Regions from separate parts of the Homo sapiens genome. Here region 1 is linked to region 2. Evidence: fine-mapped expression QTL. A gene starts in region 2. The other region holds a variant in brackets. All regions are shown on one strand. Distances are between the middles of the regions.

What was found. PIP is the estimated chance that this variant, and not a neighbour inherited with it, causes the effect. A credible set is the group of variants that fine-mapping cannot tell apart.
Region 1: its variant is the best candidate, but not a certain one, in a credible set for the expression of NUMA1-AS1 in whole blood (INTERVAL, PIP 0.64).

Annotation. Positions count from the first base shown.
Region 1 is chr11:71,894,667-71,900,033 of GRCh38, reverse strand. The region is part of intron 5 of XNDC1N (XRCC1 N-terminal domain containing 1, N-terminal like); the gene reads left to right. The region is part of intron 6 of XNDC1N-ZNF705EP-ALG1L9P (XNDC1N-ZNF705EP-ALG1L9P readthrough); the gene reads left to right. Among named protein-coding and RNA genes, the nearest start is that of DEFB131B, 19 kb to the right of the region's middle. The variant T/C (reference allele first, on the strand shown) is at 3,297.
Region 2 is chr11:72,012,095-72,017,461 of GRCh38, reverse strand. It overlaps NUMA1-AS1 (NUMA1 antisense RNA 1), which reads right to left and starts at 3,171. Exons shown (of 4, transcript NR_104178.2): 1 at 575-3,171; 2 at 1-103. It overlaps NUMA1 (nuclear mitotic apparatus protein 1), which reads left to right. Exons shown (of 27, transcript NM_006185.4): 14 at 932-1,054; 15 at 1,202-4,567; 16 at 5,020-5,061. RefSeq lists an enhancer at 1,770-2,517.

The DNA of each region.
Region 1 (5,367 bases), 120 kb after region 2:
CCACCCAAACATCTCAGTGGAGTAAAGAATAACAAGGCAGCATTGCTGCAAACTTGTCTCGCCTCCCACCATAGGGCGGTTTTTCCCCCATCTCAGAATTGAACAAATGTACAATCGGGTTTTATACCGAGACATTCATTTCCCAGGGGCAGGCAGGAGACAGGGGCCTTCCTCTCTCTCAACTGCAAGAGGCTTTCCTCTTTGACTAATCCACCTCAGCACAGACCCTTTACGGGTGTCGGGCTCGGCGACGGTCAGGTCTTTCTCCTCCCACGAGGCCACTTTTCAGACTATCACATGGGGAGAAAACTTGGACAATATGCCGCTTTCAAGGGCAGGGCTCCCTGCGGCTTTCCACAGTGTATCGTGCCCCTGGTTTATTGAGAATAGAGAATGGCGATGACTTTTACCAAGTATACTGCTTGGAAACATCTTGTTAACAAGGCACGTCCTGCGCAGCCCTAGATCCCTTAAACCTTGATTTCATACAACACATGTTTTTGTGAGCTTCAGGTTGGGTCAAAGTGTCTGGGGCAAATCTACACATTAACAACATCTCAGCAAAGCAATTGTTGAAAGTTCAGGTCTTTCTCCAAATGGAGTCTTTTATGTCTTTCCTTTCTACATAGACACAGTAAGAGTCTGATCTCTTTCTTTTCCCTACACTCACTGAACTGCCCTTCCCCTCTGCTGGGCCATGACCACGGAGAACAGGTCCACTGTCCTCCCTGTGTGGTGCACCATGGAGGCTCAGACTCCGTCTTCAAGGCTGGCAAGAAGACAGGGTGATACAGGTGACGGGAGTGGAGCCCACAGGACTGGAACCCCACACTGCAGGGCTGGAGGCACAGACTGACTATTTACTATTCTGTGGCCTGGGGGGCTCAAGGCACAGAGCTCCTTCTTAGCCAAAGTCACCCAAGTTCCCCAACCTCTAAGGATGTCCGTATAATAATGCAAGAAGAAGAAGAGAAAAGTGAGTGTCCATAGAAGATTTGGGGCTCTTCCTCTAATCAGGAGAAAGCTAGTGTGTATTCTTCCCTTCTTTCTTTTCTTTTTAAACATCCAACTGCTTTAATTTTCATCTTTTATTATGGGAAAATATACCACATATAAATATTAAAAATTATAAATATATATTACTTCATATAGAATGGCCAGTATAAACATTTACAGTTTCCATGCTTTTTCAGTTTACAGTTTCATGACATTAAGTACGTTCACATTGTTTAGCAACCATCACCGTCATCGTCTCCAGAACAGTTTTATCTTTCAAAATGGAAATTGCACCCATTCACCAAGCTCTCCACTCCTCTTTCTCGCCCACCCCTGGGGGCCACCTTTCTAGTTTGTAACTCTATGAGTTTAACTACTCTAGACACTTAATAGATAAATGGAATCATACTGTATTTAATTGTTTTGTTTTGGAAACAGAGTCTTTCTCTGTCACCCCGGCTGGAGTGCAGTGGCGTGATGTCGCCTCACTGCAATCTCCACATCCTGGGTTCAAGCGATTCTTGTGTCTCAGCCTCCCGAGTAGCTGGGATTACAGGCGTGCGCTATCACGCCCAGCTAATTTTTGTATTTTTAATAGAGACGAGCTTTCACCATATTGGCCAGGCTGTTCTCGAACTCCTGAGCTTAAGTGATCCGCCTGCCTCAGCCTCCCAAAGTGCTGGGGTTACATGTGCGAGCCACTGAGACTGGGCATGTTTATCCTTTTGGGATTTATTTATTTCACTGACGATAATGTCTTCAAGGTTCATCCATGTTGCGGCCTGCGTCAGAAGTGCCTGTTTGTTTTTGTTGTTTTTTTTTTCATTTGGTTTTATTTTGTTTTGCTTTGCGTTTTCATGGAGTCTCACTCTGTCGCACAGGCTGGAGTGCAGTGGCACAATCGGGGCTCACTCCAACCTCCGCCTCCTGGGTTCCAGCGATTCTTGTGCCTCAGCCTCTTGAGTAGTTGGGACTATAGGCACACGCCACCACGCTCGTTTCATTTTTTGCATTTTCAGTAGAGACAGGGTTTCACCAAGATGGCCAGGCTGGTCTTGAATTCCTGACCTCAGGTGATCCGCCCACCTCGGTCTTCCAAGACGCTGCGATTACAGGCGTGAGCCACCGCACCGGCCAGAAGTGCCTGCCTTTTGAAGGCTGAATGGTCTTCCATTGTATGAAAGAACTGCAGTGTGCTTTTTCATTCATCTGTCCACGAACCCTTGGGTTGCTTCCACATTTTGGCTGTTGTGAATAATGCTGCTATGAATATGGGTGTACACAAATCTGTCTTCCACTCCTGGCTTCTAATTCTTTTTGGTAGGTACCCACAAATGCAACTGCGGGAACATCTGATCATTCTGTTTCTAATTTTTCCAGTACACGCCATACTATTTTCCCCCACTCCTTCACGGTTTTACATTCCCTCCGATCAGAATCGAGCATTCCTACTTCTCTCTAGTCTCACCAATGCCTGTTTGTTTATCACATCCATCCTAATCTGTGGTATCACATTCTTGGTTTGATTTGTGCTTCCCTATGATGAGTGATTTTGAACATCACCTTAGATGCTTATTGGCCATTGTGATATCTTCTTTAGGGACACGTCTACTCGCGTCTTCTGACCATTGTTGATGGGATGCTTTGGGTTTCTTGTTGTTTAGTTCTAGCTGTTCTTTATATATGATGGCTGTCAGCCTCTTTTCAGATATATGCTTTGCAAATATATTTCCTAATCCATGGGTTATGTTTTCACTCAGTTCGCCATGTTTTTTGCTGCACAAAAGTGTCTGTCATTTATATGTAATCCAAGGAATCTAATTTTCTTTTGTTGCCTATGCTTTTGGTGTCATATCCCAGAGAACATTGCCCAATCTGATGTCATGAAAGCGTGGCCAATGTTTTCTTTTAGGCGTGTCATACTTTTAGCGCTTGGGGTGAGGTCTCTGATCCAGTTTTTGTTAATTTTTGCACCTGGTGTGACATAGGGTCCACCTTCATTCTTCTGTATGTGGAAATCAAGTTTCTCCAACACCATTTCTTGAAAAGGCTGCTGTTCCACCAATGAGCTTTCTTAGCACTCGTGAAAAATCATGTGAACATAAAGGTGAGAAGTTATTTCTGGGCTCCAAAACAAACAAACAACAACTGACAACAGATAAGGATACAGCATGGGCCGGCCGCAGTCGCTCACGCCTGTAATCCCAGCCCTTTGGGAGGCCGAGGCGGGTGGATCACGTGAGGTCAGGAGTTGAAGACCAGCCTGACCGACAGGGAGAAACCCCCGTCTCTACCAGAAA[T/C]ACAACATTAGCTGGGCGTGCTGGCGCATGCCTGTAATCCCAGCTACTCGGGAGGTGGAGGCAGGAGAATCGCTTGAACCCAGGAGGCAGAGGTTGCGGTGAGCCAAGATTGCACCATGACACTCCAGCCTGGGCAACAAGAGTGAAACTCCATCTCAAAACAAAAAACAAAAAACCAGCATGATTTCAAGAGCAGAAACAGAAGAGCTTAAAAACCAGCATAATGAGAAAGTTAGGAAGCTTCTTACCAAAGCATCTGGAAATATGCAAGCAATTCTTGTGAACTAAAATTTTCATACTGTACTATCAAACACTAGAACTCACTTATTCCATCTTTCTGTATTTTGGGACTCAATTATCCACTTTTCTTCATTCCCTATCTCACCCCTTTTCTTCCTAGCGTCTGCTAACCATCTTTATACTTTCCACCTTCTTGAGATTCCTTTTGTGTGCAGGTGTGTGATGGAGTCTCTTTCTGTTGCCCAGGTTGGTGTACACAGGCACAGTCCGGGCTCACTGCAAGCTCCGCCTCCTGAGTTCAAGCGCTTCTTGGGCCTCAGCCCTCCGAGTAGCTGAGACTACAGGCACAGGTCACCACGCCCGACTCATTTTTTGTGTTTACCGTGGAGACGGGGTTTCATCATGTTGGCCAGGCGGGTCTCGAACTCCTGGACTCAAGTGATCTGTGTGACTCGGCCTCTTAGAGTGCTGGGATTACAGGCCTGAGCCACCACACCTGGCCATGGTTTCCTTTTTTCTTCCTACATAGAAGTGAGGACATGAAATATTTGTCATTCTGTGCCTGGCTTCTTTCATTTAATGTACAGATCTGCAGTCTCATCCATTTTGTCTGCAGTGGAGAGGAGTTTCTTCCTTTTTAGGTTGCATAATACTTCATTGGGTGTGTATACCACAGTTTCTTCATTGAAACAAATTTCTGAAGAGCAAATATTTTTAAAATGTCTCGGAATGTGAAACTTCAGGGATACTGTGCCCATTTTATTCTTTTCTGTTTCCCATCTTATGTATATGCAAGTGTATAACAAAGCAGCAATCAATGTGTGTATAAATGTAGAACTTCAACAAATGTAAAATGTAAATGCTAAGTGGTGGCTGGGCGCGGTCGCGCATGCCTGTAATCCCAGCAGTTTGGGGGGCGGAAGCGGGCGGATCACCTGAGGTCGGGAGTTCAAGACCAGCCTGACCAAAATGGAGAAACACTGTCTCTATTAACAATACAAAAAAAAAAAAAAAAAAAAAAATAGCCAGGCATGGTAGCGCATGCCTGTAATCCCAGCTACTTGGAAGGCTGAGACAGGAGAATTGCTTGAATAGGGGAGGCAGAAGTTGCAGTGAGCCGAGACCGTGCCATTGAACTCCAGCCTGGGCAACAAGAGTGAAACTCTGACTCAAAAAAAAAGGGAAAGAAATAGAAAATGCGAAATGGTAAGAAAAAACAACATAATAAATATTTGTATGGTGTTGCTGGACAATGCATTTGAAGATAATATTTGAAGAAATCATACTACAATTAATTTCTGCTCTTACTCTTTGGAGCTTGATGCCTCTAAAAACTTCATTATTGGAACCACCTCTGGTGCTTTAAAAGAAAAAAAAAAAAAATCCACACACTCACACAGGTGCAAGGAAATCAGAATCTCAGGTATTGAGACCCAGGCCTCATCATTTTTAACTCCCCAGGTGATTTGACTCAAAGCCAAGATTGAAGAATGGCGACATGGATCTCTCTACATAACCTGCCTAAATAGATTCTATAGAAGCAGTTTATAAAGAAATTCCACATGAACTGTGGAAGAGGATATGAATTTGATGTACAGTATGTCCTCACTTAACATCTTTGAAAGTCTCTTGGAAACGTCACCTTGAAGCAAAATTATGTATAGTGAAACCACTTATTTTTCATCAACAGTATAACTACATAACTTTGAACAACCAATGGTGTTGGAGGACCTCCTGTACATTGTTTCCATAAAGTCAGTTTTCAGGGAATTCCAAAACGAAGTGAGGACTTCGTGTATATGAAAAGATGGTTGTGATTCCACCTGGATGA
Region 2 (5,367 bases):
AATCCTATCTCTGCTGTTCACAAGATGTGGATCTTGGACAAGTTAATCAGTCTGTTTTTCTAAGCATCCTTTCCCTAAAATGGGAGTAGTAACGAGTAGCTGCCTCATCACCTATTATGAGAAAACGTATGTAAAGCACTTCACACATCGTGTAGTGTAAAGTAAGCTCTCAGTGAACCAGTTGTGATTGTTACTATTGGTAAGAACCCAATTTGGCCACTTACTAATAACCATGTAGCCCTTGATCAAGGCACTTAGCATCTGCTTCAGGTTCTTGCTCTGTAAGAGGAATGGTAGTAGCTGCCTCCCACATAAGCTGGGTGTGGTGATGCATGCCTGTAGTCCCAGCTACTCGGGAGGCTGAGACAGAAGAAGCTCTCGAATCTGGGAGGTGGAGGTTGCAGTAAGCCAAGATCTCGCCACTGCACTCCAGCCTAGGCGATAGAGCGAGACTCTGTCTCAAAAAAAAAAAAAAAAAAAAAAAAATTAGGGATGAACCCAGCATAGCCTATTGTAGGTGCTTAGTGAACAGTGGTGAAGAAGTGGGTTTGGGACTGGGGGTTGCTGCAGCTGCTGCCAGTGGTATTGCTGCCCAGAGGATGGTGGGCAGCTGGTGGTGATTTGGATAATCTAGGACTCAAGACTTATCTGAGGAAGGGTATACGGTAAGGAAATTTGAAGTAAACTCAGCAGCCTTGGGGAAGTAGTAAGCAGGTTACATTATGACTTTATTGTGCCTTAGAACTAGGTCTAGAGAATCAGGTCCCTCATGCTCCCAGTTCCATGGTTTCTGCTTTTTTCTAGGCCAGGGCAAAAGGAGATCTTGGTAACAAGATGATGGGCCCCATGTTTGCTGATGTTTATGAGGGCTTGTGTGGTAATCTGGTGCCTGTTCCCCCTCTCTGTTCACATGGGTCTCATTTACTCCCAGAAATGCCTTGAAGAGAAGAACGAAATCCTTCAGGGAAAACTTTCACAGCTGGAAGAACACTTGTCCCAGCTGCAGGATAACCCACCCCAGGAGAAGGGCGAGGTGCTGGGTGATGTCTTGCAGGTAGGAATGCACAGAAAGACCTGTGTGCTGCTGGTTGGTGTGGACTCACATTCAGTACATTTGGGTTCCTGGTGTTCCTCCATTTCCAGAGGAGTCTTGATGACTGAGGAGTCATGCTGATCCCAGTTTGTCTCTTTATACCACCAGCTGGAAACCTTGAAGCAAGAGGCAGCCACTCTTGCTGCAAACAACACACAGCTCCAAGCCAGGGTAGAGATGCTGGAGACTGAGCGAGGCCAGCAGGAAGCCAAGCTGCTTGCTGAGCGGGGCCACTTCGAAGAAGAAAAGCAGCAGCTGTCTAGCCTGATCACTGACCTGCAGAGCTCCATCTCCAACCTCAGCCAGGCCAAGGAAGAGCTGGAGCAGGCCTCCCAGGCTCATGGGGCCCGGTTGACTGCCCAGGTGGCCTCTCTGACCTCTGAGCTCACCACACTCAATGCCACCATCCAGCAACAGGATCAAGAACTGGCTGGCCTGAAGCAGCAGGCCAAAGAGAAGCAGGCCCAGCTAGCACAGACCCTCCAACAGCAAGAACAGGCCTCCCAGGGCCTCCGCCACCAGGTGGAGCAGCTAAGCAGTAGCCTGAAGCAGAAGGAGCAGCAGTTGAAGGAGGTAGCGGAGAAGCAGGAGGCAACTAGGCAGGACCATGCCCAGCAACTGGCCACTGCTGCAGAGGAGCGAGAGGCCTCCTTAAGGGAGCGGGATGCGGCTCTCAAGCAGCTGGAGGCACTGGAGAAGGAGAAGGCTGCCAAGCTGGAGATTCTGCAGCAGCAACTTCAGGTGGCTAATGAAGCCCGGGACAGTGCCCAGACCTCAGTGACACAGGCCCAGCGGGAGAAGGCAGAGCTGAGCCGGAAGGTGGAGGAACTCCAGGCCTGTGTTGAGACAGCCCGCCAGGAACAGCATGAGGCCCAGGCCCAGGTTGCAGAGCTAGAGTTGCAGCTGCGGTCTGAGCAGCAAAAAGCAACTGAGAAAGAAAGGGTGGCCCAGGAGAAGGACCAGCTCCAGGAGCAGCTCCAGGCCCTCAAAGAGTCCTTGAAGGTCACCAAGGGCAGCCTTGAAGAGGAGAAGCGCAGGGCTGCAGATGCCCTGGAAGAGCAGCAGCGTTGTATCTCTGAGCTGAAGGCAGAGACCCGAAGCCTGGTGGAGCAGCATAAGCGGGAACGAAAGGAGCTGGAAGAAGAGAGGGCTGGGCGCAAGGGGCTGGAGGCTCGATTACAGCAGCTTGGGGAGGCCCATCAGGCTGAGACTGAAGTCCTGCGGCGGGAGCTGGCAGAGGCCATGGCTGCCCAGCACACAGCTGAGAGTGAGTGTGAGCAGCTCGTCAAAGAAGTAGCTGCCTGGCGTGAGCGGTATGAGGATAGCCAGCAAGAGGAGGCACAGTATGGCGCCATGTTCCAGGAACAGCTGATGACTTTGAAGGAGGAATGTGAGAAGGCCCGCCAGGAGCTGCAGGAGGCAAAGGAGAAGGTGGCAGGCATAGAATCCCACAGCGAGCTCCAGATAAGCCGGCAGCAGAACGAACTAGCTGAGCTCCATGCCAACCTGGCCAGAGCACTCCAGCAGGTCCAAGAGAAGGAAGTCAGGGCCCAGAAGCTTGCAGATGACCTCTCCACTCTGCAGGAAAAGATGGCTGCCACCAGCAAAGAGGTGGCCCGCTTGGAGACCTTGGTGCGCAAGGCAGGTGAGCAGCAGGAAACAGCCTCCCGGGAGTTAGTCAAGGAGCCTGCGAGGGCAGGAGACAGACAGCCCGAGTGGCTGGAAGAGCAACAGGGACGCCAGTTCTGCAGCACACAGGCAGCGCTGCAGGCTATGGAGCGGGAGGCAGAGCAGATGGGCAATGAGCTGGAACGGCTGCGGGCCGCGCTGATGGAGAGCCAGGGGCAGCAGCAGGAGGAGCGTGGGCAGCAGGAAAGGGAGGTGGCGCGGCTGACCCAGGAGCGGGGCCGTGCCCAGGCTGACCTTGCCCTGGAGAAGGCGGCCAGAGCAGAGCTTGAGATGCGGCTGCAGAACGCCCTCAACGAGCAGCGTGTGGAGTTCGCTACCCTGCAAGAGGCACTGGCTCATGCCCTGACGGAAAAGGAAGGCAAGGACCAGGAGTTGGCCAAGCTTCGTGGTCTGGAGGCAGCCCAGATAAAAGAGCTGGAGGAACTTCGGCAAACCGTGAAGCAACTGAAGGAACAGCTGGCTAAGAAAGAAAAGGAGCACGCATCTGGCTCAGGAGCCCAATCTGAGGCTGCTGGCAGGACAGAGCCAACAGGCCCCAAGCTGGAGGCACTGCGGGCAGAGGTGAGCAAGCTGGAACAGCAATGCCAGAAGCAGCAGGAGCAGGCTGACAGCCTGGAACGCAGCCTCGAGGCTGAGCGGGCCTCCCGGGCTGAGCGGGACAGTGCTCTGGAGACTCTGCAGGGCCAGTTAGAGGAGAAGGCCCAGGAGCTAGGGCACAGTCAGAGTGCCTTAGCCTCGGCCCAACGGGAGTTGGCTGCCTTCCGCACCAAGGTACAAGACCACAGCAAGGCTGAAGATGAGTGGAAGGCCCAGGTGGCCCGGGGCCGGCAAGAGGCTGAGAGGAAAAATAGCCTCATCAGCAGCTTGGAGGAGGAGGTGTCCATCCTGAATCGCCAGGTCCTGGAGAAGGAGGGGGAGAGCAAGGAGTTGAAGCGGCTGGTGATGGCCGAGTCAGAGAAGAGCCAGAAGCTGGAGGAGAGGCTGCGCCTGCTGCAGGCAGAGACAGCCAGCAACAGTGCCAGAGCTGCAGAACGCAGCTCTGCTCTGCGGGAGGAGGTGCAGAGCCTCCGGGAGGAGGCTGAGAAACAGCGGGTGGCTTCAGAGAACCTGCGGCAGGAGCTGACCTCACAGGCTGAGCGTGCGGAGGAGCTGGGCCAAGAATTGAAGGCGTGGCAGGAGAAGTTCTTCCAGAAAGAGCAGGCCCTCTCCACCCTGCAGCTCGAGCACACCAGCACACAGGCCCTGGTGAGTGAGCTGCTGCCAGCTAAGCACCTCTGCCAGCAGCTGCAGGCCGAGCAGGCCGCTGCCGAGAAACGCCACCGTGAGGAGCTGGAGCAGAGCAAGCAGGCCGCTGGGGGACTGCGGGCAGAGCTGCTGCGGGCCCAGCGGGAGCTTGGGGAGCTGATTCCTCTGCGGCAGAAGGTGGCAGAGCAGGAGCGAACAGCTCAGCAGCTGCGGGCAGAGAAGGCCAGCTATGCAGAGCAGCTGAGCATGCTGAAGAAGGCGCATGGCCTGCTGGCAGAGGAGAACCGGGGGCTGGGTGAGCGGGCCAACCTTGGCCGGCAGTTTCTGGAAGTGGAGTTGGACCAGGCCCGGGAGAAGTATGTCCAAGAGTTGGCAGCCGTACGTGCTGATGCTGAGACCCGTCTGGCTGAGGTGCAGCGAGAAGCACAGAGCACTGCCCGGGAGCTGGAGGTGATGACTGCCAAGTATGAGGGTGCCAAGGTCAAGGTCCTGGAGGAGAGGCAGCGGTTCCAGGAAGAGAGGCAGAAACTCACTGCCCAGGTAAGGTACTCAGCCCAACCACCCTCCCAAAGATCAGGAGCTGAGAGCGCGGGGACATCGATCCTCTGTGTCCAGGGCCTCTAGCTCCTACACTGGAGTGTCTTGCCTTTCCTCATTCACTGGGTGGCAGAAAAGGAGAGGTGGCTGGTGGAGTTCAAGTCTGTTGCCCCTGTCATCCTAAAGAAAATGTCAGTGGCCTCCCCTCCCCTGAAGGCTCTGTCACTAGAGAGTCAAGTTGTGATGACCACCAGCCTGTTCAGAGGCACACCTGCACTGGATGCCTCAGGAGCCACTGGGGATTAGAATCAGCCTAACTGGCATTTTTAAACTTACTGTCAATCTAGCTCCTTAGGGGAAAGTATCAGAGCCTCAGTGAGGTCAGCCTGGCAGCAGGGCTGGTGCTTCTTTGGCCTCATCTCACTCTGTCTCTGTTGCTCCTCCCCCATGTACAGGTGGAGCAGCTAGAGGTATTTCAGAGAGAGCAAACTAAGCAGGTAATGCCTGAGGTCCTCGCTAAATGCTGGCTGCTTAAACGGTGACCAGTCTTGGTGCATGAGCCCGGCTGCAGCTTGCCTCCGCCAGCTCCTGTTGTGAACTGTTTGTGAAGGGGGCAGGGTCAAGCCATGGAATCCAGGCCCAGGCTGCCCAGGAGTGTGGTGTGCTGGGCTCTCTCAGGCCTCATCCCACCCATCCCAGGTCGGCCTCTCCACCCTTCTGCACCTTCTCTCATTTGCCTATCAGGGACAAGGGGTAGCACTGGCTTCATCTTTCCCACCCTGAACCAATGACAGACACAATCC